Regions from separate parts of the Homo sapiens genome. Here region 1 is linked to region 2. Evidence: fine-mapped expression QTL. A gene starts in region 2. The other region holds a variant in brackets. All regions are shown on one strand. Distances are between the middles of the regions.

Region 1 (12,373 bases), 60 kb after region 2:
GTAGACCTCAAGTGGTGATGCTTTCTCACTCACTGCTCAACTCCTGCTGTACAGCCTGGTTCCTAACAGGCCACAAACCGGTACAGGTCCACAGCCTGGGGGCTGGGGACCCCTGATTTACATAACTGAATGCATCCATTTTAAGTATGCAGTTGGCTCCAAGGGACCGCTGATTTGCTTTGTCAATGTACATTAGGTTTGTCTTTTCTAGAGTTTCACATAAATAAAATAATATATTTTGTACTCATTTGTATAGACTTTCTTTTGCACAGTATAATGTTTTTGAGTTATCTATATTGTTGTGTAACACTAGCTTGTTCCTTTTTATTGTTGAGTAACATTTTATTGTGTGGACATAAACACAAATTGTTTATTTGTTGACCTGTTGAGGGACATTTGGATTGTATTACGGTTTCAATGAGATTTATCCCCATCAAAATTCATGTTGAAATTTACTTGTCAATATAGCGGTGTTGGGAGGTGGTTCCTTGAAAGGGTGATTAGGTCATTAAAACAGATTAACACTTTTCTCATGAGACTGGGCTAGTTCTTGTGAGAATGGATTAGTTTCCACAAGAGTGGGTTGTTATAAAGGCTACTCCTCCTGTTTGGTCCCTTTTGCACATGCCTACTCACCTTTCTGCTTCTTTGCCATGCTGTGATGTAATATGTGAACCTCACCAGAAGCTGAGCAGTTGCTGGTGCCATGCTCTTCGACTTTCCAGTCACCAGAATCATAAGCCAAATAAACCTCTTTTCTTTATAAATTATACAGCCTCAAGTGTTCTGTTGCAGCAACACTAAACAGACTAAGACAGTTTGCTTCCAATTTTTGACTATATGAATAAAATTGCTGTGAACGTCCATGCACAAGTCTTTGTGTGGCCATATATTTTCATCTTTCTTGGCTAACTTCCTAACAGCAGAACTGCTAGGTTGTATGGCAATTGCATGTTTACCTCTTCAGGAAACTACTAAACTGTTTTTGCAGATGATTATACCATTTTACCTTCCCACCAGCAATGTATAAGAGTTCTACTTCCAGGCCAGGCACGATGGCTCATGCCTGTAATCCCAGCACTTTGGGAGGCTGAGGTGGGCGGATCACGAAGTCAGGAGATTGAGACCATCCTGGCTAACATGGTGAAACCCCGTCTCTACTAAAAATACAAAAAATTAGCCAGGCGTGGTGGTGGGCACCTGTAGTCCCAGCTACTCGGGAGGCTGAGGCAGGAGAATGGCATGAACCCAGGAGGCAGAGCTTGCAGTGAGCCAAGATCATGCCACTGCACTCCAACCTGGGCGACAGAGCAAGACTCTGTCTCAAAAAAAAAAAAAGAGTTCTACTTCCTCTATATCTTCACAAACAATATTGTCAGTGTTTTGTCTTCATTAGTTTATGTTGTTGTTAATTTAAGCCATTCTAATGGGCTTGTAGTGGTATCTCATATTGGCTTTAATTTGTATTTCCCTCATGTTAACAATATTGCACTTCTTTCATGTGCTTCTTTTGTAAAATGTTCAAATCTTTTGCCTATTTTTACATTGGATTGTTTATCTTAGTATTAAGTAGTGTTGTTTAAAATAATCTGGATACAAATTTTTGTCAGATATATGTGTTCCAAATATTTCCCTCAGCCTGTAGCATTTGAAGAGCAGTAGTTTTTTATTTTGATCAAGTTCATTTTATTGATTTTTTTCTTCTGTGTTTAATGCTTCTCGTGTTCTATATAGAAAATCTTTCCATACCAAAAGATCACAAAGACTTTCTCCTATATTTTCTTCTTAAAACCATAGGTCTATAGTTTATTTACAATTAATTTTTGTGTATCATGTGAGATAAGAGTAATTTTTTATTTTTCCTCAAGTAAATATTTAGTTGTGCCAGCAGTATTTGTTAAAAAGACTCCCTCTTCTCTATTTAGTCATATTAGGACCTAGCATACAAAATAATTGAACATATACATGTGAATTTCTACTAGACTCTATTTAATTCTATTGATCTAAATGTTAATCTTTACATCAATACCACAATGTCTTGATTACTATATATTTACAGTAAGTTTTGAAATCAGATAATACAAATGTTTAACTTTTTCTTTTTCAAAACTATTTTGGATATTCTAAGTTCTTTGATTTTCTTCATATACATTTTAGACTCATCTTGTCAGTGACCACAGATAATACTTCTAGGGTTTTTATTGCGATGTTGTTGAATCTATAGATCAAATTTAGGAGAATGCCAACTGACATCTTAACAGTATTAAATCATCTGCTCTAAGTACATTCATATCTCTCCATAAAAATGTGTTTATTAATTCTTCAAGTATCAAACCAAACTTTCCTGATATTAGAATGTGTTGCAGGAAGTCAGGGACCCCGAATGGAGGGACCAGCTGGAGCCACAGCAGAGGAACATAAATTGTGAAGATTTCATTTTAATGTGGACAAATTTTAATTTATCAGTTCCCAAATAATAGTTTTATAATTTCTTATGCCTGTCTTTATTTTAATCTCTTAATCCTGTTATATTCATAAGCTGAGGATGCGCGTCACCTCAGGACCACTGTGATAATTGTCTTAACTGTACAAATTGATTGTAAAACATGTGTGTTTGAACAATATGAAATGAGGGCACCTTGAAAAAGACTGGAATAACAGCTATTTTTAGGGAACAAGGGAAGACAACCATAAGGTCTGACTGCCTGTGGGGTCGGGCAAAAAGAGCCATATTTTTCTTCTTGCAGAGAGCCTATAAACAGACGTGAAAGTAGGGAAGGTATCTCTAAATTCTTTTTCTGGCAAGGAATATTAATATTAATACCCTAGGGAAGGAATGCATTCCTGGTGGGAGGTCTATAAATTGCCGCTCTGGGAATGTCTGTCTTATGCAGTTGAGATGAGGACTGAGATACGCCCTGGTCTCCTGCAGTACCCTCAGGCTTACTAGGGTGGGGAAAAACTCTGCCCTGGTAAATTTGTGGTCAGACCAGTTCTCTGCTCTTGAACCCTGTTTTCTGTTATTTAAGATGCTTATCAAGACAATACGTGCACCACTGAACATAGACCCTTATCAGTAGTTCTGCTTTTGCCCTTTGCCTTGTGATCTTTGTTAGACCCTTACTAGTAGTTCTGCTTTTTGCCTTTTGAAGCATGTGATCTTTGTACCTACTCCCTGTTCTTACACCCCCTCCCCTTTTGCAACCGTTAATAAAAACTTGCTGGTCTGAGACTCAGGCAAGCATCACAGTCCTGCTGATATGTGATGTCATCCCCGGCAGCCCAGCTGTAAAATTCCTCTCTTTGTACTGTCTCTCTTTATTTCTCAGCTGGCCAACACTTATGGAAAATAGAACATAGAACATATGTTGAAATATTGGGGGTGGGTTCCCCCAATAAGAATATTCTTTACTTCATGATCTCTCAACCCATTTTCACAAATACACTTTTGTCTCAAAATTTGTCTCAGATTTGTACTTGACAAATTTGTGTTTGAGACAGAATTTGTCAAATTTGTGTTTGACAAATTTTGTCTCAAACACAAATTTATCTCACCCTAGTTTCACAAATAAATTTTTTTCTCAATTCATTCTTAATTTAGAAAATTCAGAAATTTTCTAAAACTGTCTCTTTTCTTCTTTGAGTAAATCTATTTAAAAGAAAGGCATTTCAATTTATCATGCAAAGCCATTCTCTCCTTCAATCAATATGGAAGTATTTCTGTTTGCTCATTCAGAACAAATCCCATTATGCTGGATTTCTGCTAGTTAAAGCCATGTGTTCTGGGAGAAGGAAGGGAGAAGTTCCTCCTTGGTGTTGGATTTTTCTTTGTTGTGTTTATGTCCTCTAGGATGAAGCCCACCACAACAATTTTTTGGCTTTTCATTGCCTGCCGTTATATACTTGAGTCTCATGGTATAAGTGGAGTGCTTTAGAGTCTGTATCACTTAAATTTGATGCACTTTGTTCTTTCACAAGAGGGAAATTGAGTTAGCCCTTTATGTCTCCATACTTGTATTTCATCCACATTATAATAAAAATGTAGTCTTTCCTCTAACATTGTTTTGTTTGTTTTGTTTTGAGACAGGGTCTCACTCTGTCACTCAGGCTGGAGTGCAGTCTCACTGCAGCCTTGACCTCATGGGCTCAGGTGATCCTCCCACCTCAGCCTCCTGAGTAGCTGGGACTACAGGCATGTGCCACCATGCCTGGCTAATTTTTTTAGATAGGAGATTTTGCTATGTTACCCAGGCTAGTCTTGAACTTCAAGACTCAATCAGGCTGCCCACCTCAGCCTCCCAAAGTGCTGAGATTACAGGTGTGAGCTACCATGCCTGGCAATAACATTGTTGATCCAAATTTACTTTTTATTACTGATAGTTGGGATATATAATATATGCAGCTTCACACACAGATATACTCACTGCTACAATCACAGAAATTCTGTTAAGTTACATCTTGTACAAATACCATCAAGAAAGAAATTAATGTATGGCGTGTTCTCTGTGTTAGCAAGCATATTATTAACAGGAATGTACTTCCATTTTTACTAGTATTGAATCCTTGGCTTATAATTTTTATATCAGTTTTATGCTTCTGAAAATTAAAATAATTTTCCTCTGGCTTGCTTTTGGCTTCATACAAACTTTGTTTTACTTTCCATCCCAAAGGTACTGTAATATATGTTTCAAAGCTTGTTGTAACGTTCTGCTCTACAGCTTCAGTCATAAAACTCAGTAAGCCAGCACAGTGGTAGTAGAATATCCCTGAAAGCCATTCCTACACAAGCAGAGCTAGCAATAACTACACCTTAACTCATCCTCTCCTTAGCCATATCTCCAAAATGATGACAGCTTCTTCAACACTACCCTCAGTGGTCAGGGAGAAGGTCAGAGTGGAAAGAGAGTGCACTTAACCTACTACAGCTAATTTTTTAAAAATAATATCAACTTATATTTTAGATTCAGGGGATACATGTGCAGGTTTGTTACGTGGGTATATTATGTTAGGCTGAGGTTTGGGGTACTGTTGAATCCATCACCCAGGAAGTTATCATTGCACCCAACAGCTAGTTTTGGGAGTTTTTTGTTTGTTTGTTTTTTAAATTAACAGCTAGTTTTTCAACCTTTGTCTCCCTCCTTCCCTCCCCCCCCGTCTAGTAGTACCCAATATTTACTGTTGCCATCTTTATGTCCATTGAATACTCAATGTTTAGCTCTCACTTACAAGTGAGAACATGTGTATTTGGTTTTCTGTTCCTGCTTTAATTCACTTGGGATAATGGCCTCCAGCTGTATCCATGTTGCTGCAAAGAACATGGCTTTGTTCTTTTTTATGGCCAGCATTGTAAATATTTTTTACGTTTACAAGTTTTACCAAAATATATAAGCATGTAAACACATCTCTAGGGTTCCTCCAGGCCTTTGAAAAGGATATAATAAAATAATAAAAATTAAGC[T/C]TCATTCGCTTTGTGATAAATCTGCCTCAATATTCAATAAACAATTTGTTGAATAAGTGAGTGAATAAATGAACAAAATAATTTTCCTTGCAGAAGGCAGCCAAACTTTTGTGAACTGTATAACATTAGCAATGAAAGAATGTTTGGCGAAGTCCTTGGGACCCTTTCTTTGCTGACATATATGATGTTTGTTTTTAATCAATGTCATTTTAGTTGGAAATGATAAATTTCCTCTCACCTGATTGAAATAATTGGGGCTGTTATTTTTCCTTTCAGCACTTTCAGCAATCCAAAAAAGGAGGAAATAAAATTAGTCCACCTGGTTCGATAGAGAAGAAATGTTTCAAATACTAAGACTAACATCTATCCCTTAGCAAAGGAAGGTGAAGAAGCCATTCAAGATACCAACAGTGGATACACAGACTTATTAAAATGTGTACATAAAAACTCTAGTCATGTTTAAGGTGTAAATGGCTGACAATAGTCATTATTCATCTATCAATAATCTATCTTCTGTCTGTCATCATCTATCAATCCATCTGTCTATCAAACGTTAATCTGTCTTTGTATTCCCAGCTTTCCTTTCCATCCACTTGTTTATAATCTAAGTAACTTCTGAGTATTCACCCATCCTCCTCTCCCTGCCCCCTACCCCCTCACCAATTTATATGTTTCAAGTGGAACTTGTGACCCCTTTCTGGCTCACCAGGTTATTCTGTCACTCCTGTTATAGTAATTGGTCTACAAATGGGCATGAAGACCTAGCTGGGCCAAGCAGAGTCAGCCCTGTGACTTTCTGGCACTACTGGGGAAGAGGAGCTTTCTGCTAAAGTTGTTCATCTGGTAGAATATAAAGCAGACACTGAGAAACACTCTTGCCACTATGTGGAGAGAGGCTGCCTTAGGATGAAGTTAACACAAAAAAATGCATAGTTGAGAGATGGTGTGTAAGTCCATTTTACGTTGCTCTAAAAGAATACCACAGACTGGGTAATTTTTAAAGAATAGAAGTTTATTTGGCTCATGGTTCTGAAGGCTATGAAGTCCAAAAGCTTGGCATGGCACCTGGTGAGGGGCCTTTCTGCTGTATCACCCCAAGGTAAAAGGTGGAAGGGCAAGACAGCGCAAGAGTGAGCAATCAAGAAAAGGTTGAACTTGCTTTTATAACAACTCAGTCTCAACGTAACCCTTCCCTGAAATAACAACAGTAATCCACTAATGAGAGCAAAGCCCTCAGCCCTCATGACCTAATCACCTCTTAATGGTCCCACCTCTTTTTTTTAATTTTTAATTTTTGTTGGTACATACTAGGTGTATGTATTTATTGGGTACGTGAAATGTTTTGATACAGGCATATGCAATGTGAAATAAGCACATCATGGAGAACAGGGTATGCATCTGTCAAGCATTTGTCTTTTGTTTTACAAACAATCCGATTACACTCTTTTAGTTATTTTGAAATGTACAGTTAAATTATTATTGACTATAGTCCTGCTGCTGTGCTATCAAATACTGCATCTTATCTATTCTTTCTATTTTTTTAACCCATTAACCATCCTCACCTCTCTCTCACTCCCTGACCACCCTTCTCAGCCTCTGGTAACCATCCTTCTATTCTCTATCTCCATGAGTTTAATTGTTTTTATTTTTAGATCCCACAAATAAGTGAGAACATTGAATAGTTGTTTTTCTGTGCCTGGTTTATTTTACTTAACATAATGATCTCCAGTTCCATCCATGTTGCAAATGACAGGATCTCATTCTTTTTATGGCTGAATAGTAGTACTCCATTGTGTTCAAGTCCTACATTTTCTTTATAGATTCACCTGTTGATGGAAATTTAGGTTGTTTCCAAATCTTGGCTATTGTGAACAGTACTGCAACAAATATGGGAGTGCAGATATCTCTTTGATATTCTGATTTCATTTCTTTTGGTTAGATACCCAGCAGCGGGATTGCCAGATGGTATGGTAGCTCCATTTTTAGTTTTTTGAGGCACCTCCAAACTGTTCTCCATAGCGGTTGTACTAATTTACATACCCACTAACAGTGCTTAAGGGATTCCTTTTCTCCACATCCTCACCAGCATTTGTTATTGCCTGACTTTTGGATAAAAGACATTTTAACTGGGCTGAAATGATATCACATTGTGATTTTGATAGGCATTTCTCTGATGATCAATGATGTTGAATACCTTTTTATATGCCTGTTTGCCAATTGTATGTCTTCTTTTGAGAAATGTCTATTCAAATCTTTTGCCCATTTTTTGATCAGTTATTAGATTTCTTTTCCTATAGGGTTTTTTTCCTTATATATTCTAGTGTTCAATCCCTTGTCAGATGAGTAGTTTTCAAATATTGTCTCCAATTCTGTGGGTTGTTTCTTCACTTTATTGATTGTTTCCTTTGCTGTGCAGAAGCTTTTTAACTTGATGTGATCCCATTTGCCCATATTTGCTTTGGTTGCCTGTGATTGTGGGTATTGCTCGAGAAATTTTTGCCCAGACCAATGTCCTGAAAACTTTCCCCTATGTGTTCTTACAGTAGTTTCATGGTTAAAGGTCTCAGAGTTAAGTCTTTAAGCAATTTTTTTTTTATTTTTGTATATGGCAGGAGATAGGGGACAAGTTTCATTCTTCTGCTATATAGATATTCAGTTTCTCCAGCACAATTTTTGAAGAGACTGCATTTTCCCTAATGTATGTTCCTGGCACATTTGTCGAAAATGAGTTCACCGTAGGTGTATGAATTTTTTTCTGGTTTCTCTGTACTGTTCCATTGGTCTATGTATCTGGTTTTTTGTTTGTTTGTTTGTTTTGTTTTGTTTGTTTGAGACAGAGTCTAGCTCTGTCACCCAGGCTGGAGTGCAGTGGCACGATTTCGGCTCAATGCAACCTCCGCCTCCAGGGTTCAAACGATTCTCCTGCCTTAGCCTCCCGAGTAGCTGGGATTATAGGTGCACACCACCACACCTGGCTAATTTTTGTATGTGTCTGTTTTAAGCCAGTACCATGCTGGTTTGGTGACTATAGCTCTCTCATATCACTTGAAGTCAGGTGATGTGATTCCTCTAGTTTTGTTCTTTTTGCTCAGGATAGCTTTGAGTATTCTGGGTCTTTTGTGATTCCATATAAATTTTAGGATTATTTCTTCTATTTCTGTGAAGACTGTCCTTGGTATTTTGATAGAGATTGTATTAAATCTGTAGATTGCTTTGTGTAGTAAGAACAATTTAACAATATTTACTCTTCCAGTCCATGAACATGGACTCTCTTTCAAATTTTGTATCTTCTTCAATTTCTTGAATCAATGTCTTATCGTTATCATTGTAGAGATCTTTCACTTCACTGGTTAATTCCGTCATATTTTATTTTATTTGTAGCTATTGTAAATGAAATTACTTTTTTGATTTCTTTTTCAGAATGTTCACTGTAGGCATATAGAAATGCTACTGATATTTGTATGTTGATTTTGTATCATGCAACTTGACTGAATTTGTTTATCAGTTCCAATAGTTTTTTGGTAGGGAGTCTAGATTTTTCCAAACATGAGATCATAACATCTGTAAACAAGGATAATTTGCCTTCTTCCTTTCCAGTTTGGGTTCCCTTTATTTCTTTCTCTTGTCTGATTCCTTTAGCTAGGACTTCCAGTAATATGTTGAAAACAATGGTGAAAGTGGGTATCCTTGTTGTGTTCTAGACCTTAGAGGAAAGTCTTTCAGTTTTCCCTCATTCCATATGATACTTGCTGTGGGTCTGTCATATATGATTTTTATTATGTTAAGGTATATTCCTTCTATACTCAGTTTTTGGGGGTTTTGATTATGAAGGGATATTGAACTTTAGCAAATGTTTTTCAGTACCAATTGAAAAAAATCTTATGATTTCTGTCCTTCATTCTGTTGATATAATGCATTATATTGATGATTGATTTGCATATGCTGAGCCATGCTTGAATCCCTGGTATAAATCCCACTTGCTCATGATGAATAATCTTTTCAATGTATTGTTGAATTGAGTTTGCTAGTATTTTGTTGATGATTTTTGCATAAATATTACTTGGAGATAGTGGCCTGTAGTTTTCTTTTCTTTTTGATGTGTCTTTGTCTGGTTTTGGTATCAGAGTAATACTGGCCTCACAGAGTGAGTTTGGAAGTATTCCCTCCTCCATTTTTTGGAATAGTTTGAGTAGGACTGATATTAGTTCTTCTTTAAATGTTTAGTAGAAATAAGCAGTGAAGACATCAAGCCCTGGGCTTTTCTTTACTGGAAGACATTTTTATTATGGCTTCAATCTCATTACTTGTTATTGGTCTGTTCACATTTTGGGTTTCTTCATGGTTCACTCTTGTTAGGTTGTATGTGTCTAGGAATTTATCCTTTCCTCTAGATTTTCCAATTTATTGGCCTATAGTTGCTCATAGTAGCCACTAATGATCCTTTTGATTTCTCTGGTATCACTTGTAATGTCTCCTTTTTCATCTCTGATTTTATTTACTTGAGTCTTCTCCCTTGTTTTCTTTACTAGTCTGGCAAGATGTCAATTTTGTTTATCTTTCAAAAAACCAACTTCTTGTTTCAATGATCTTTTGTATTGTTTTCTTCATTTCAAAATTACGTATTTCTGTTCTGATCTTTATTATTTCTTTTCTTCTACTAATTTTGGCTTTGGTCTGCTCTTGCTTTTCTACTTCTTTTTTTTTTAACTTTTATATGTGGGTGTTATATAAGTAAACTCATGTCATGGGGGTTTGTTGTACAGATTATTTTGTCACACTATTACTAAGCCTAGTACCCAATAGTTTTTTTTTTTTATACTTCTCTCCCATCTTCCACTCCCCACCCTCAGGTAGGCCCCTGTTTCTGTTGTTTCTCTTTGGGTTCATGCGTTCTCATCATTTAGTTCCCACTTATAAGTAAGAACATGTGGTATCTGGTTTTCTGTTCAGGCATTAGTTTGCTAAGAAGAATGGCCTCCAGGTTCACCCATGTTTCTGCAAAGGGCTTGATTGCACTCTTTTTTATGGCTGCATAGTATTCCATGGTGTATGTGTACCACGTTTTCTTTAACCAGTCTATCATTGATGGGCATTTAGGTTGATTCCATGTCTTCGCTATTGTGAAGAGTGCTGCAATGAACATACACCTGCTTGTGTCTTTATGGTAGAATAAGTTTTATCCCTTTGGGTATATACACAGTAATGGGATTGCTGGGTCAAACAGTAGTTCTGTTTTTAGCTCTCTGAGGAATCACCACACTGCTTTCCACAATGGCTGAACTAATTTAGACTCTCACCAGCAGTATATAAGCATCATTTTCTCTGCAATCTCACCAGCATCTGTTATTTTTTGACTTTTTAGTAATAGCCATTCAGACTAGTGTGTGATGGTATCTCACTGTGGTTTTGATTTGCATATCTCTAATGAATGGCGATATTGCACTTTTTAATATATGCTTGTTGGCCACATGTATGTCATCTTTAGAAAAGTGTCTGTTCATGTCCTTTTCCCACTTTTTAATGGGGTTGTTTGTTATTTCTTGGAAATCTGTTCATGTTTCTTACAGGTGATGAATATTAGACCTTTGTCACATGCAGAGTTTGTGAATATTTTCTCCCATTCTGTAGGTTGTCCATTTATTCTGCTGATAGTTTCTTTTGCTGTGCAGAGCTCTTAAGTTTGAATAGATCCTGTTTGTCAATGTTTGCCTTTGTTGCAATTGCTTTTGGCATCTTCATCATGAAATCTTTGCCCATTCCTATGTCCAGAATGGTATTGCCTAGGTTGTCTCCCAGGGTTTTTATAGTTTTGGGTTTTACATTTAGGTCCTTAAGCCACCTAGAATTGATTTTTTTATATGAATTAAGGAAGGGTTCCTGTTTCAACCTTCTGTATGTGGCTAGCCAGTTATCCCAGTATCATTTATTAAATAGGGAGTCCTTTCCTCATTGCATATTTTTGTCAGTTTTGTCAAAGATCAGATGGTTGTAGGTGTATGACTTCATTTCTGGGCACTCTATTCTGTTCTATTGGTCTATGTGTCTGTTTTTGTACCAGTGACATGCTGTTTTGGTTACCATAGCCCTGTAATATAGTTAGAAGTCAGGTAGTGTGATGGCTTTTCTACTTCTTTAAGATATATTATTAGGTTATTTTTTGAAGTTTTTCTTTTTTGATGTAAGCACCTATAACTAAAGATTTCCCTCTTAATACTCCATTGCTATATCCCATAGGTTTTGGTATGTTGTGTTTCTGTTATTATTTGTTTCAAAAATTTTTCAATGTCCTTCTTCATTTCTTCATTGACTCATGGGTTATTCAGGAGTATATTGTTTAATTTCCATGTTTTTCTATAGTTTCCAAAGTTCCTCTTGTTTCTGATTTTTAGTTTTATTCCGTTGTGGTCAGAAAAGATGCTTGCTATTATTTCAATTTTTTGAATGTTTTAAGACTTGTTTTATGACCTAGCATATAGTCTATCATTGAGAATGATCCATGTGCTGTGGAGAAAAATGTTACATAACATCTGAATGAAATGTTACGTTTACAATTGTTATATCCTATTGCTGCATGACCCCTTTATCATTATATAATAACCTTCTTTGTCTCTTCTTACAGTTTTGGTCTTGAAATATATTTTGTCTGATATAAATATAGCCACTCCTGCTCTTTTTTTGGTTTCTATGCATGGAGATCTTTTTTAATTCCTTTATTTTTAGTCTATGTGTATCTTTATGGGTGAAGTGTGTTTCTAGCAGGCGAGAGATCGTGGTTTTTTTTTTTTTTAAATCCATTCAGCCACTCTATGTCTTTTGATTGGAGAGTTTAGTTCATTTATATTCAATGTTATTATTCATAAAGTAGGGACTTACTCCTCCCATTTTATTATTGGTTTTCTGGTTGCTTTGTGGTCT
Region 2 (12,373 bases):
AGTAGAGCTGAGGGAAGTGGAAAAAATCAAGATATATTTTGCAAGCAGAATTAATAGGAGGTGGTCATGAATTGGATGTGTGTTGGAAGGGAGAATATTATAAAATGTCATTGATCACTTTTGGCATGTGTGGAAATAGGGAAATATGAAAGAAGAACAGATTGTGGGAGGGGGGGAGATAGGTTTTTAACATGTTGATTTTCAAGATGCCTGAGTTACATTAAAGAGAACCACACAAGCTATGAGATACATGAGCTGGAAAGAAGATCTAGGTTGAACACATATATCTGAGAGTTATGAATGCAGATGGTAACCAACGCTATGAGAGTGCATGAAATAATTTAGGCAGGGCTCTCTGCTCCTCCTGTTTGACAGACAGCTGCATCTTCTCTTGCATTGCCAACCACATCCCTGAGACACCATGGGGAAAGTGAAGGTTGGAGTCAATGGATTTGGTTGTATTGGGCGCCTGGTCATCAGGGCTGCTTGTAATTCTGGTAAAGTAGATATTATCGCCATCAATGACCCATTCATTGACCTCAGCTACATGGTCTACATGTTCCAGTATGATCCCACCCATGGTAAATTCCATGGCACCGTCAAGGCTGAGAACGGGAAGCTTGTCATCAATGGAAATCCCATCACTATCTTCCAGGAGCCAGATCCCTCCAAAATCAAGTGGGGTGATGCTGGCACTGAGTATGTCATGGAGTCCACTGGCATCTTCACCACCATGGAGAATGCTGGGGCTCACTTGCAGTGGGGAGCCAAAAGGGTCATCATCTCTGCCCCCTCTGCTGATCCCCCCATGTTCACGATGGGTGTGAACCATGAGAAGTATGACAACAGCCTCAAGATCATCAGCAATGCCACCTGAACCACCAACTGCCTAGCGCCCCTGGCCAAAGTCATCACTGACAACTTTGGTATCGTGGAAGGACTCATGACCACAGTCCACGCCATCACTGCCACCCAGAAGACTGTGAATGGCCCCTCCAGGAAACTGTGGCGTGACAGCCACAGGGCTCTCCAGAACATCATCCCTGCCACTACTGGGCTGCCAAGGCTGTGAGGAAGGTCATCCCTGAGCTGAATGGTAAGCTCACTGGCATGGCCCTCCGTGTCCCCACTGCCAACGTGTCAGTGGTGGACCTCACCTACCATCTGGAAAAACCTGCCAAATATGATGACATCAAGAAGGTGGTGAAGCAGGCATCAGAGGGCCCCCTCAAAGGCATCCTGGGCTACACTGGGCACCAGGTGGTCTCCTCCGACTTCAACAGTGACACCCACTCTTCCACCTTCAATGCTGGGGCTGGCACTGCCCTCAACGACCACTTTGTCAAGCTCATTTCCTGGTATGACAATGAATTTGGCTACAACAACAGGGTGGTGGACCTCATGGCCCACATGGCCTCCAAGGAGTAAGACCCCTGGACCACCAGCCTCAGCGAGAGCACAGGAGGAAGAAAGAGGCCCTCACTGTTGGGGAGTCCCTGGCACACTCATTCCCCACCACACTGAATCTTCCCTCCTCACACATTCCATGCACACCCCTTGAAGAGGGAGGGGCCTAGGGAGCCCCATGTTGTCGTGTACCATCAATAAAGTCCCCTGTGCTCAGCCAAAAATAATAACAATCATAATAGTTTAGGCAGAAAGGATAACATAAGTAAAAAAAAAAACTTGTAAAGCAGCCAGAAATAATTGAATTTTAACATTCACAGGCCACAAAAAGAGGAGAAACCGACAAGGATGAGAAAGAGGGAACAGATATATAAGTGATGTTACAGAAGTCAATGTTTTCCCTCAGTTGTTATTCACATTTGCTTTTGTGTATAGTGTGTATGGATTCTTCAGGTTCAAGACAGTTTCTCCAAGATCAGAGGGGGGTCATTTATCTTTGTATGGTTCACAGGCAGGTGAGTCCTACTGCAAAGTTGCTGAGTCCATAAAATTATGGTTCATTTACTGGAAAGTTTTTAAGCATTTATTCACATATAACCATTTTCCTTAAGAAGCATTCCTGGGTCATCGGGATGGCTGGTAGGAGATAGCTTCTGGAATCAACTAAATGCTTGCCTAGAACCAAGTATTTTTCTGATGTCTTGGGTTTTTAAAAGTAAGTCCTTGAAATACAGCTGGTTTCTTTCCTCTATCATGGTGAGTTTATTTCCCCTCAGGCTCTTTTTATCTTCTCCTACCCTGAAACCAGATTGCTCTTCAGTAATAGGAATATGAGAGCAGGGTGAAAAGGCATTCCCCATTAACACTTGGAATTTATTACCAGATTTCTTGGACCAAAGTTTGTTGATATCCATGAAGACAGATATGTTAGAGTAGTAAGTGAAGGAAATCACAACTCAGACAATACTCAATTAAGAGTGACAAAACTTTTCTTGGTATAGCCAAGCCAGGAAAAACGGGCAGAACCACCATGGTTTGGCCCTCTTATCACTATATGCTTGAATGTATGACTAAAAGTGTGGGATATGGCCTTGAAACATGGCTATGTGAAGAGAGACTGGGCTAATGGCTTTGACCGGTAAAGAATACAGATTGGGTGTACATATTGGGTCACACCAAAACAATGAATATCCAATGTAAGTAATTTGTAGTTGTCATTCTTAGGAAAGGAGTAGCATATGTACCTTAGAAATATGCATCAGGGGTTGCAAAGCTGAGAAGGCATTCTGATATATGATTCTGGTGGAGGTGGTGGCGGGTGAACCTAACTTATTCCCAGCATTCAATATGCCTAGTTGAAAATCATTATAATAAATTTAGTAAGAGACAAATAGCAAACTGGGAAAATATATTTGCAACATATGCAGACAAACTGTTAATAACTTTATTATAAGAAGATGTCTTATAAATCAATAAGAAAAAGTAGACACAACTAATGGAAAATGTCTAAAGAATTCAAACAGGCAATTCCTGAAAGAAGGCTAAAATTGCAATAAACATGATAATCTGTCAAGCAACAATGAAATATCAATCTTTACCTCTCAGACTGGTAATGATTACAAAGCATACATTCAGTAAAGAGAATGGGGTGGGGAAATGAGCACCTTTTCATAAATTTTGGTGGAATTGTGAATTGGTACATTTCTGGAGGTTAAGTGGGCACGATGTGTCAAAATTTGTAAACTTAAAACCCTTTGACCAGGTACAGTGGCTCACACCTGTACTCCCAGCACTTTGGGAGGCCAAGGCAGGCAGATCACATGACACCAGGAGTTTGAGACTAGCCTACCTAACATGGTGAAACCCTGTCTCTAATAAAAATACAAAAATTAGCTGGGTGTGATGGCACACACCCGTAATCCCACCTACTCGGGAGGCTGGGGCATGAGAATCCCTTGAACCCGAGAGGCAGAGGTTGCAGTGAGCCGAGACTGGGCCACTGCACTCCAGCTTGGGCGAGACAGTGGGATGCCGTCTCAAAACAAAAACAACCACCTCTCCACCCCTAAAAAAAGTCCCAAACCTTTGACCCAGAAATTTCCCTTGTAAATATTTATGCTAAGAGTTATTAAACAAGTGCACAAAATTGCATATTGTGGATACTAATAGCCCAATTGATACAGTAGTTCAAATTTGAAACAATCTAAATGCTAATCTATAGGGTAAATGGCTACATAAATGAGTGTGTATCCATATAATGGAATATTAAGTACTTGGTATTACGTTGAAAAGTATTCCTGATGTATTAAATTTTTAAAAAAGCAGATTATAGAGTAGCATTATTTTAAAAAACCATCTGTGTTAAGAAAAAAAGGCTTATATAGGCATGTAAAATTTATTTAGAATGGGAGACAAAATTATAGGGGGGATTTTCATTTTGTTTCTTTTTTTGTTATTTTATCTGTGCTAATGTATTATCAGGATAATCTATGTCCATTTAAATAAAATAAAAATAATTCATACAAGCTAACAAAAAGGTAAACATCTTTAAAAGTTTGAATGAAACATATCTCGTGGAAAACATTGTAATTCCAAGTTAGTCAAGCACCTGTGTTATATGATGGCTATAACGTGGGGGAGGAGTAATGAGCAGAATAAAACAAAAGACTGGAACTAATAGTAGTTAGTGTTATCAACAATTTTCTCCATTTTCTCTAAGTAGCATCCATGTAGCAAAATTTACTTCTAGAAGATTCAAAGTCTTTCTCTACAACTCTTTAATTAGGTTATTTCTTTTTACTCCTGACTCAACAGGCTTCCAGGTTCACTTTTCTTTGAAAGCAGAGGTTGCTGACAATATTACCAACATGGAAAGGTGGACTAGGAAAAAAAAGATGGATAGCTTGATTTATGTTGCTAACCTTGTATGGACTGTAGGACATTTAAAAATATTTTGTACTGGGTGTGGTGGCTCACTCCTGTAATCCCAGTGGTTTTGAAGGCCAAGGCAGGAGGATTGCTTGCAGGCAGGAATTTGAGACCAGCCGGGGCAACACAGCCAGTCCTCCTTCTCTATCAGCTATTTAGGAGGCTGAGGCAGGAGGATGAGGCAGGAGGATAGCTCGAGCCCAGGAATTCGATGTTGCACTAACCTATGATTACACCACTGCAATCCAGCCTAGCTGATAGAGTGAGACCCTGTTTCTAAAAAGAAAAAAATATTGCTATTTTATACAAAAAAATTTATGATAAAATGTCCTCTCCTTTAGGTTTTGTAGGTAACTGTATCCTATTTGCATTTGATCCACATGAAAGAACTCTGTTCTCAAAGTTTGCAGATGCTGTTGTTGCTTGTATTTGCTTTTACTCTGTTATGATGCTACCAAGATTTTGGTTAGATGGCTGTTATTCTAGGTGGCAGACATGCGGGTTTCCCTCCCTTTGCACAACTAAACAAGGTAGGCTTTGGTTCTGGGCAGTCACTGGTATTTACAAACCACTTATTCATGCCAGGTAATAGGGTTCCAGATTGGGTAAGTTTTATGTTCTGGTTCTTGGTATATGTTTAGACAGCTTATAAATGTAAATAAACATTCTACTCTTACAGGTGGAGTGTGGACACGGTGATATCCGTGTGACCGCCATTCCCAGCTGAAGGTTATCTCATCTATGATTTTCTTATACGTGACTGGCACCCCCTAGTGAATAGGGACTTAAGTTGACCTCCACGGTAGAAGAAATACCAGGGAAATACCTGAAGCTGTTTTAACAATTTCTCCTTGTATTAAGTATTATGCTGCAGTTTTGCGTGTGTGAATGGAAGTATGGGTAGAGATCTGTTCTCCCTAAAAACTCCAGGATTCCACAATATAGAAATAGTAATCAAATTTTTAGGTGAAGCTCGAACTAATCCGAACTTTGTTAGATCATCACTGTAAATGAATGGGTATTTATCCACTCCCTAAATGAAGAGACTTGACTGGATTTCTTTTTTTTATATAGCTACTAGAATCTGTTACACATAATTTAGGATTGAGACTTGAGAAATTGTCATTCCAATCCAGAAAACTTTAGATTTGCAAATATATTTGACAAATTAATAAATTAACATTTTATTTGGTTAATTTCAAGAATAGGGCATTTAAAGAAGTCTGTGTTTGCTTTAGTTCGGCAATAAAGTTCCTGCCACTCACAATAATCCTTATTATTCTCTGAAAGACATGTTATATTTTTGTCATCATAAATATTTATTAATTACTGTTTATAGCACTGGGTTAGGTACTCATCAAGCAACCAAAAATAATTCTTACCATCTAGGATGCTTCCAATATAAAATATAGACAATATATAACCAGGTCAATTGGGAAATAGATCATTTCAGTATGATAAAAGATAGTATTCACATTAACAGTGTGAAAGGGCAGGAACAATAAGACACTTGACTCACTGGTCTTTAAAATGTAGCATCCAAAATGAGCAAGTGGAGAAAAGGTTAAACAAGTAGGTGACACATTTAAAAAACAAGTAGATGAAAGGACTATTCTCAAAAATCTTGTTTTATGTGAGAAACCATCAAATTATGAATTCCAAGTACTGTATTTTTTTTACTTTTCAAGGGTAGGCTCTCCTATACCTTATCTAAACAATTTTTCAAAATAGCCACAATTACTTTGTTTTCCTCTCTACACTAAATTGCCCTTTGCCTCTTGAGCGATTATCTTTTTCAGATTCACCTCAACTTCTTCAGGTTCAAGCGGACTTCACCTGTAAGCCCCTCTCGGTTCTCCCTCTTCTCTGAACTACTAATGGCCTAATTTAGCACAATTATATTGCTTTGTTCATTCCATGTATAGTAAAAGAGTCTACAAAACACATGCAAGCATTCATGCAATTATATGTTGATTTGTTCATGGGTCGACCCCAAAGTCTATTCTCCATCGCTGAAGCATGGAAGACAAATACCCTTCACTTCTTCAGAGGCATAACACATGCACTTCTCTTGTCATGGTGACAGGCATGTGCTGGTGGAGGTCAAAGAAACAGGAACACAAGTGAAATCGAGGTGAGTGTCAGGTAAGGACCAAAGCACCACGCCTACCTCATCTTTGCCCACAGAACACCCATTCTTCCCGTGTCCTGTTTCCCAGGACGTATCCGGGGCGGATAAGAAATCACCCGTGGGGAGGCGGTGAACTCCTCCGCAGGGGCCGATGCCCGGGACAGGGGCGGGGAAGGCTAATGAGGCGACTTGTGCGGGGAGGGGCCAAGGAGGAGCCCAGGTGTCCCGCTCCCGCTCGACGGCGCGCGCCTGCGCGAGCCCAGTTGGCGTCGCACCCTTGAGCGCAGCATCCCTACGCCAGCGAGTCCCAATACTAGGGAGGGAGGGAGGGAGGAGGGGCGGCCGGCCCCCCGCCCCCGCGCGCGGCCACGTGACGCCGGCTGAGGAGATTGGAGGGGCGGCTGCGCGAGGCTGCAGACTGGTGCAGCGCACTGTGCTGGCGGCTGGGCCTCCTCCACCTCCTCGTCTTTCTCCCGGGAACCTTGACGACGCCTTCCGCTTGGCCCTGCCTTCTGCCGCATCCCCGCCGCCGCGGCGCCTTGAGGAGCAGGAGAAGACGCAGCCGGGCCGCCGCCGTTAGAGGGGTTCCCGGCCGCCGCTCGCCCCGTCGGCCGCCACCGCCTCCGGGGTCAGCCCTCTCTCTGGGTCTCCGCTTTCTCCTGCCGCCAGCGCCCGCTCATCGCCGCGATGGGGCTCCTGGACTCGGAGCCGGGTAGTGTCCTAAACGTAGTGTCCACGGCACTCAACGACACGGTAGAGTTCTACCGCTGGACCTGGTCCATCGCAGGTAAAGCCGCTGACTTCCCCATCCTCGCTCGGTCCCCCGCGGGGGGTCACCGGCCCCTGGTCTCGCAGCTCCCGGGCCCGGCCCCACAGGCCCCCGCGCCCTGCGGCTTTCGGATGCTGCGGATCAGCGGAGGGGCCGGCGCGGGCACTGCGGTTGAGCACTGGTTAATCTGATCCGAATGTTAAGGCCTCCCCTCCCCCGACACTCGCAGGGTTTTCTTCTGAGCTCCCTCCATCTCTCATCAGCTCTCGGATGCGGGAGCTGACATATCAGATGGAGCCTGTGCAGCCAGGAGCTCCTCGCAGGAGCCGCCCCACCCTGTGCTCCCACATCTCCCGAGCTCGCCTCCCTCTTCCCCGTGCACAGGATTCCTTTTAACATTTAGTCCTATTTTGTATGGAGAGCGGGCTGGGGAGGAAGGAGGGCTTCAGGGGCAGCTGAAGGTACAGGAGGTTTCTTCAGCCTCCTGGTCGCTTTGACAGAACCCTGCTAATCTTTTCTTCTATCTAGCTCCTTCATCTATAGTATAATTCGGACTGAAAAGTAAAATAATATTGTTTGGCTCCTTGAACCTTGAAGAATGTTAGTTTCCGAGGCATTTTCAACAGCAAATATGTTTGAAGTGATTGTCTATAATGGCTTTGCGCACTGCAGTGCAGTCAGGGGGAGGGGGAGGCCAAAACACCGGGGAAGAAATCAGTCTTTAGGAAGGGGGTCTCTACAGCAACACCTAGAGGTTGTCCCAGATGCCTACATATATACAGTTCTTAAATCAGCAAACTTTTCTTTAGCTGTTGCAGTTAATTTGGCAGGGCTGTCAATTGTTTGATTTATGCAGCTTTCCTAGCGTCCAACTGTGATATTATATTTTTACATTGTACTGTTTATTTCTTCATTTGCTTCGCTGCTTTTGATTTTAAAGCATTTAAAAGTCTTTGAAATCTAAAATAAGGTTTAAAGGATTTCAGAAATGATTTTACGAGGTCAATTTTTCTGGTCCTTTTGCAGTATCACACTGCATCCTATCAGTGAAGGATATTAACGTTCCATCTTATGACTCTGCCTTCCCTACTTCGAAATGAAAATGTACTCCTGTAGTTTTTGTGTTCATTGTTGTTAGAGGAAATTAGACAGTGGTTACAGCATGAATGTAGTCCGATACATAGGGCTTATGTTTTGGGAAAAACGTATGCTGGAATTATTTTTGTGAGAGACAAAATGATTATTTGGCATTAATACTGCATTCACTTCTTTAGAAAAGTATGTTCTTTTTCAGAAGATCTCAACTTTGACACTGGGAAATAAGCTATTTAATAAGCCATTACAGCTGAAAATGGTTAAAAGGCAGTTTTCAATGGAGTGTTTCTTCAGTTTTTTTTTTTGTTTCTATGCGCTATTACACTGATGTTACACTGTACCTGCAAAAACTGGGAAAGATGTGCCCTTCCCTTCACGTCTGTGATTTCGGTTCTTTAAACGTTGCATCAGGGCTTCCCATTACACAATTGTATAGAGCTGAACATCAGACAAGTTCTTTAGCAGGTAATTGCACTTCGCACACCTAGGAGTCAGACACTGTTGAGATACTCCAGTCTCCATATAGCCAGAGCCACACCCAGGAGTTCTCGGTCCTGTCATTCCTATCCTATCCCGGAGCTTTCCCATCTCTTGAGTCTCAGAAGGAAAAATTGAGGGCAAAGGTAGAATACACCTTTCTGTGATGGTGAATTCCTTCCTGATGATGTTTGTGTAAAAGAAACCACACACACACAAATGAAACAGGAAATTTTGTGCAGTTGCCGCATGTGAAAGCTTGCTACTAGGCTTCGAAGGGCATATAAAATAATATAATATTGTGGGCCAAGCCTGAGAAGTGAGAGTAGCCTTAGAACACAAGTGACCTCTCACTAGCAGGCCGAAGGAAGGTATTTGCCTATGCTTTGACTATCCACTTACGAAACCTGAGACTGCTTCCTTGCTTTCTGTAATGAGCTACCTTATGTAGGCAGATGGTATTTCTTAACCAACAGAGAGGCTTAGTGGATATAGTCTGTTCTGCTGTACTGCTGTGTGAGGAGGAGTATTTTTCAGGTCCAGGCCGAATAGACCTGAAGTCTGTGGTGTCCCATTTACGTTTACTCTCCCTCATTCTATGCCCCTCGTGTTCCTTTTTTTTTTTTTTTTTTTTTTTTGGACTCATTCACTCTGCTCTGATTCCACCTCTCAGCATAATTTGATGAAAATCTGGGTGGGGGATATCAAAATAGAAAAGTAGCTTATAAGATGAGGTTAAACAAAAGTTGGTGAGTCAAATGTTTGGAAAGAAGGGGAAACAGAAATGGGCGGGATAGAAAGATGGTCTTGAGAAATAGTGATGAGTGTGGTGAAAGGATGCAAATTATTGAGGGAGAGCAAGAAATGAGGTAGGCTCCTTGTCCTTGGCTGCTCTCATTCCTAGTGCTGTAGTTACATGCTTCTTTCATTCTTTTATTAATTCATTAAATGCCATTTTGTGCTATTATATCAAATGGTGCTTTAAATATCCAAACATATCCAAAGCAATGTCTGAAAACTGGGCTTTTCAGAGGCACATATGTAGCAAATACAAAATATGGTCCATAATAATGTTAACAACAAAAATGTTACTTTTACTACAGTATTAACACTTTGTACATTGGAATTGAAAGTTTGAAAGAGCTATACTTTTAGAAAAACAACAAAAATAATTTTTATTTCTCTGTATTTGTAGACATTTTGAACGAGGAAATTAGCGTTGGTTTATGTTAAAGTATAGGCTGGTGTAGGACTTTATACTAGTTGTTAGTATTAGAGTAGGTATTCCATGTCATCATGTTAGTTTTTTTCTTCTATTCTTTCACTTCATGAGTACATTTAAATTATTAGGATTGGAGTCCTAGGCTCAACGTATACATCTAATAAAAGTTGTATATACATTTTTTAAACTGATGAATCTAAATATTCCCCAATCTATGAATACCCAACTTATCTACATTATTCATTTATTCATGCTTTTAATAAATGTTTAATAGCTTTTTTGCATACCTGACATTTAGCATATAAACACCCTAGAGAGTTAGTAGGATGCTTACGGTAAAGCCAGGTGTCTCCTGTGAGGCCATGTATCTTCTGACCATTTGTTTCTAAATAGCTGTTGTTCACAGGGTATGGGTGCTGTCTGTTGGTTGGGGGTGGTAATGATTGGCATTGGCCCTCTTTTCGCAGATATAGTACCCTGCATTTTGGTGAAAAAAATTGTCTACTTGGTAGTTGCAGTTAGAACATAACTTGCTGGGTCCTTGAATTAACTTTGGAGGGGTCAGAAAGAAGGGATGAGTGGTACAGGAAGAGGGAGGAGAGCTGTAGGATGACGAAATGTGGAAGCCAGGCTTATGATACCATTTCTTTCCGTATTTACTTGCCATGTACAGGCACAGTTCTAGGCTCTGGAAAGGAAAGGAGGACACTTGGTCACTGCCCTCATGCATCTTGCAAAGTCTAGGGGGTCACTGTCATTCCCCTTTCCTTGATATCATGGTCTGGAGGCAGTGTGATCTGTCAGACTCAGGACTAGCTGGGGCCTAGGGAAGATCAGAAAAGTCCTTCCCTGCTCTTCTCATCTCTACTTCTCCTAAGTGAAAGGAATATACAGTTGTTTTTAGAATATTTTAGCTGTTTCACCACAGTTTACTTCCCTCTACCCTTGAATGAGGAGTTGATGTGAGTACTGTCAGAGTATTTGGAGAGGCATACTAGGGCAAAAGGTGTCAAAGGCAAGGGGAACAGCTTGACTGAAAACCATGGAAACTGGGAAGGTGCTTAAGGGTCAGGCCAGTGAGTCATCCAGGTTTGATGAAGCTGGGGGCTAGTGGGAGGGGATGTTTAACTCAGCTCAAATAAGCTGAAGTAAAAGCAGGTTTGTCTTAGGGATTGCTAGGTCCCAGAGGAGCATGTATTTTAAGTATTGTACAGTATGCTTACATTAATTTTATTATTCGTCACAGTTAATGTTTAGTTTTTCATCTATGTTATTATCTAAAATAGGTTTATTTGTTTGGCTAAGCCTGGTAATGCAGTTTTCTTTGAATGTTTCTTTGAGAAAAGACATTCTGATTCCAAGTTGTAGGCAGCTAATTAAAAAAAAAAAAGAAAGAAAGAAACATCACCAGCTCCTAACATGGGATCTCCCTTGGTCACTGTTTTCAGTGACGTCCTAATTATCCTTTACTCATAAGCTCCTTGAAGCCTCTGGGATGTCCATGCCATTTTATGGTTTTTTGTTTTGGTTTGGTTTTTATTGTCTTTTCCTTCACCACAGTTTGATTTTTGGTGGTAGACTGCTAGACTTTAATAGCTAATGCTCTTATCCATTCCCCAATGATAGCATAAAGTAAAACATCCTATTGCAGATGGAATTCCAGGAGGGTAAACAATGCAGGTTCTAAAACGGGTGTCAGGACACAGTTTTAACTATTTTAACTTAGATTCTTTGGCTTAGGAAGACAAAGTTTTAAGAATTATGCAGATAATTATATCAGATGGCACTTTTGTAAACTTAAGAGCCACAGAGCACTTGGTCATCCTTTAAAAATTCAATTTGTTTTCTTATTTTTTTGCTCAAGTCCTGTGGATAATGTCACCTGTAAATGCTTTAACATTATTAACGTAAGTATTTTCATTTGTTAAGCCACTTATTATTCTGAATTAGGCATATATTAGCACACCGAAATGAGTAGTGTAACAGTCTATCTTTTTTCACTTTAGATGTTTTTTTCGTCTTCATTATCAGGACATTTTGCCTGTTAACAAACGAAGGTACTATTGTTTTATTTTCTATTAGAATATATATTTTAAAATCATGTGGGTTTGGATTTCAGAAAGGAGATGGGAGGAAACACATGGCCTTTTAAAGCCAAGGTCCACATTAACTTTCTCGCTTGATCCTTCAGTATTCCCCTGCCCAAAGACCTGCAGCTCTAGCCAACTGGGATAACTCACTGACCCTTAAGTAAAATGTGTACATGTCCACCTTTATGTTTCTCATCCCACCATTCCCCTTGCCTTTACCCACCTTTTCCCTGTTTACCTCTCCAGATACCTTT

What was found. PIP is the estimated chance that this variant, and not a neighbour inherited with it, causes the effect.
Region 1: its variant is fine-mapped to the expression of ELOVL4 in testis (GTEx, PIP 0.95).

The regions. Positions count from the first base shown.
Region 1 is chr6:79,881,763-79,894,135 of GRCh38, reverse strand. No RefSeq gene overlaps it. Among named protein-coding and RNA genes, the nearest start is that of ELOVL4, 60 kb to the left of the region's middle. The variant T/C (reference allele first, on the strand shown) is at 5,459.
Region 2 is chr6:79,942,060-79,954,432 of GRCh38, reverse strand. ELOVL4 (ELOVL fatty acid elongase 4) reads left to right here and starts at 6,880. Exons shown (of 6, transcript NM_022726.4): 1 at 6,880-7,253. The coding sequence starts at 7,154. It overlaps LOC124901350, which reads left to right and starts at 4,800. Exons shown (of 2, transcript XM_047419628.1): 1 at 4,800-4,865; 2 at 6,422-7,046. The coding sequence starts at 6,618. The coding sequence ends at 7,046. It overlaps LOC124901351 (a long non-coding RNA gene), which reads right to left and starts at 6,628. Exons shown (of 3, transcript XR_007059656.1): 1 at 6,506-6,628. It also overlaps the pseudogene GAPDHP63. RefSeq lists a silencer at 6,771-6,820.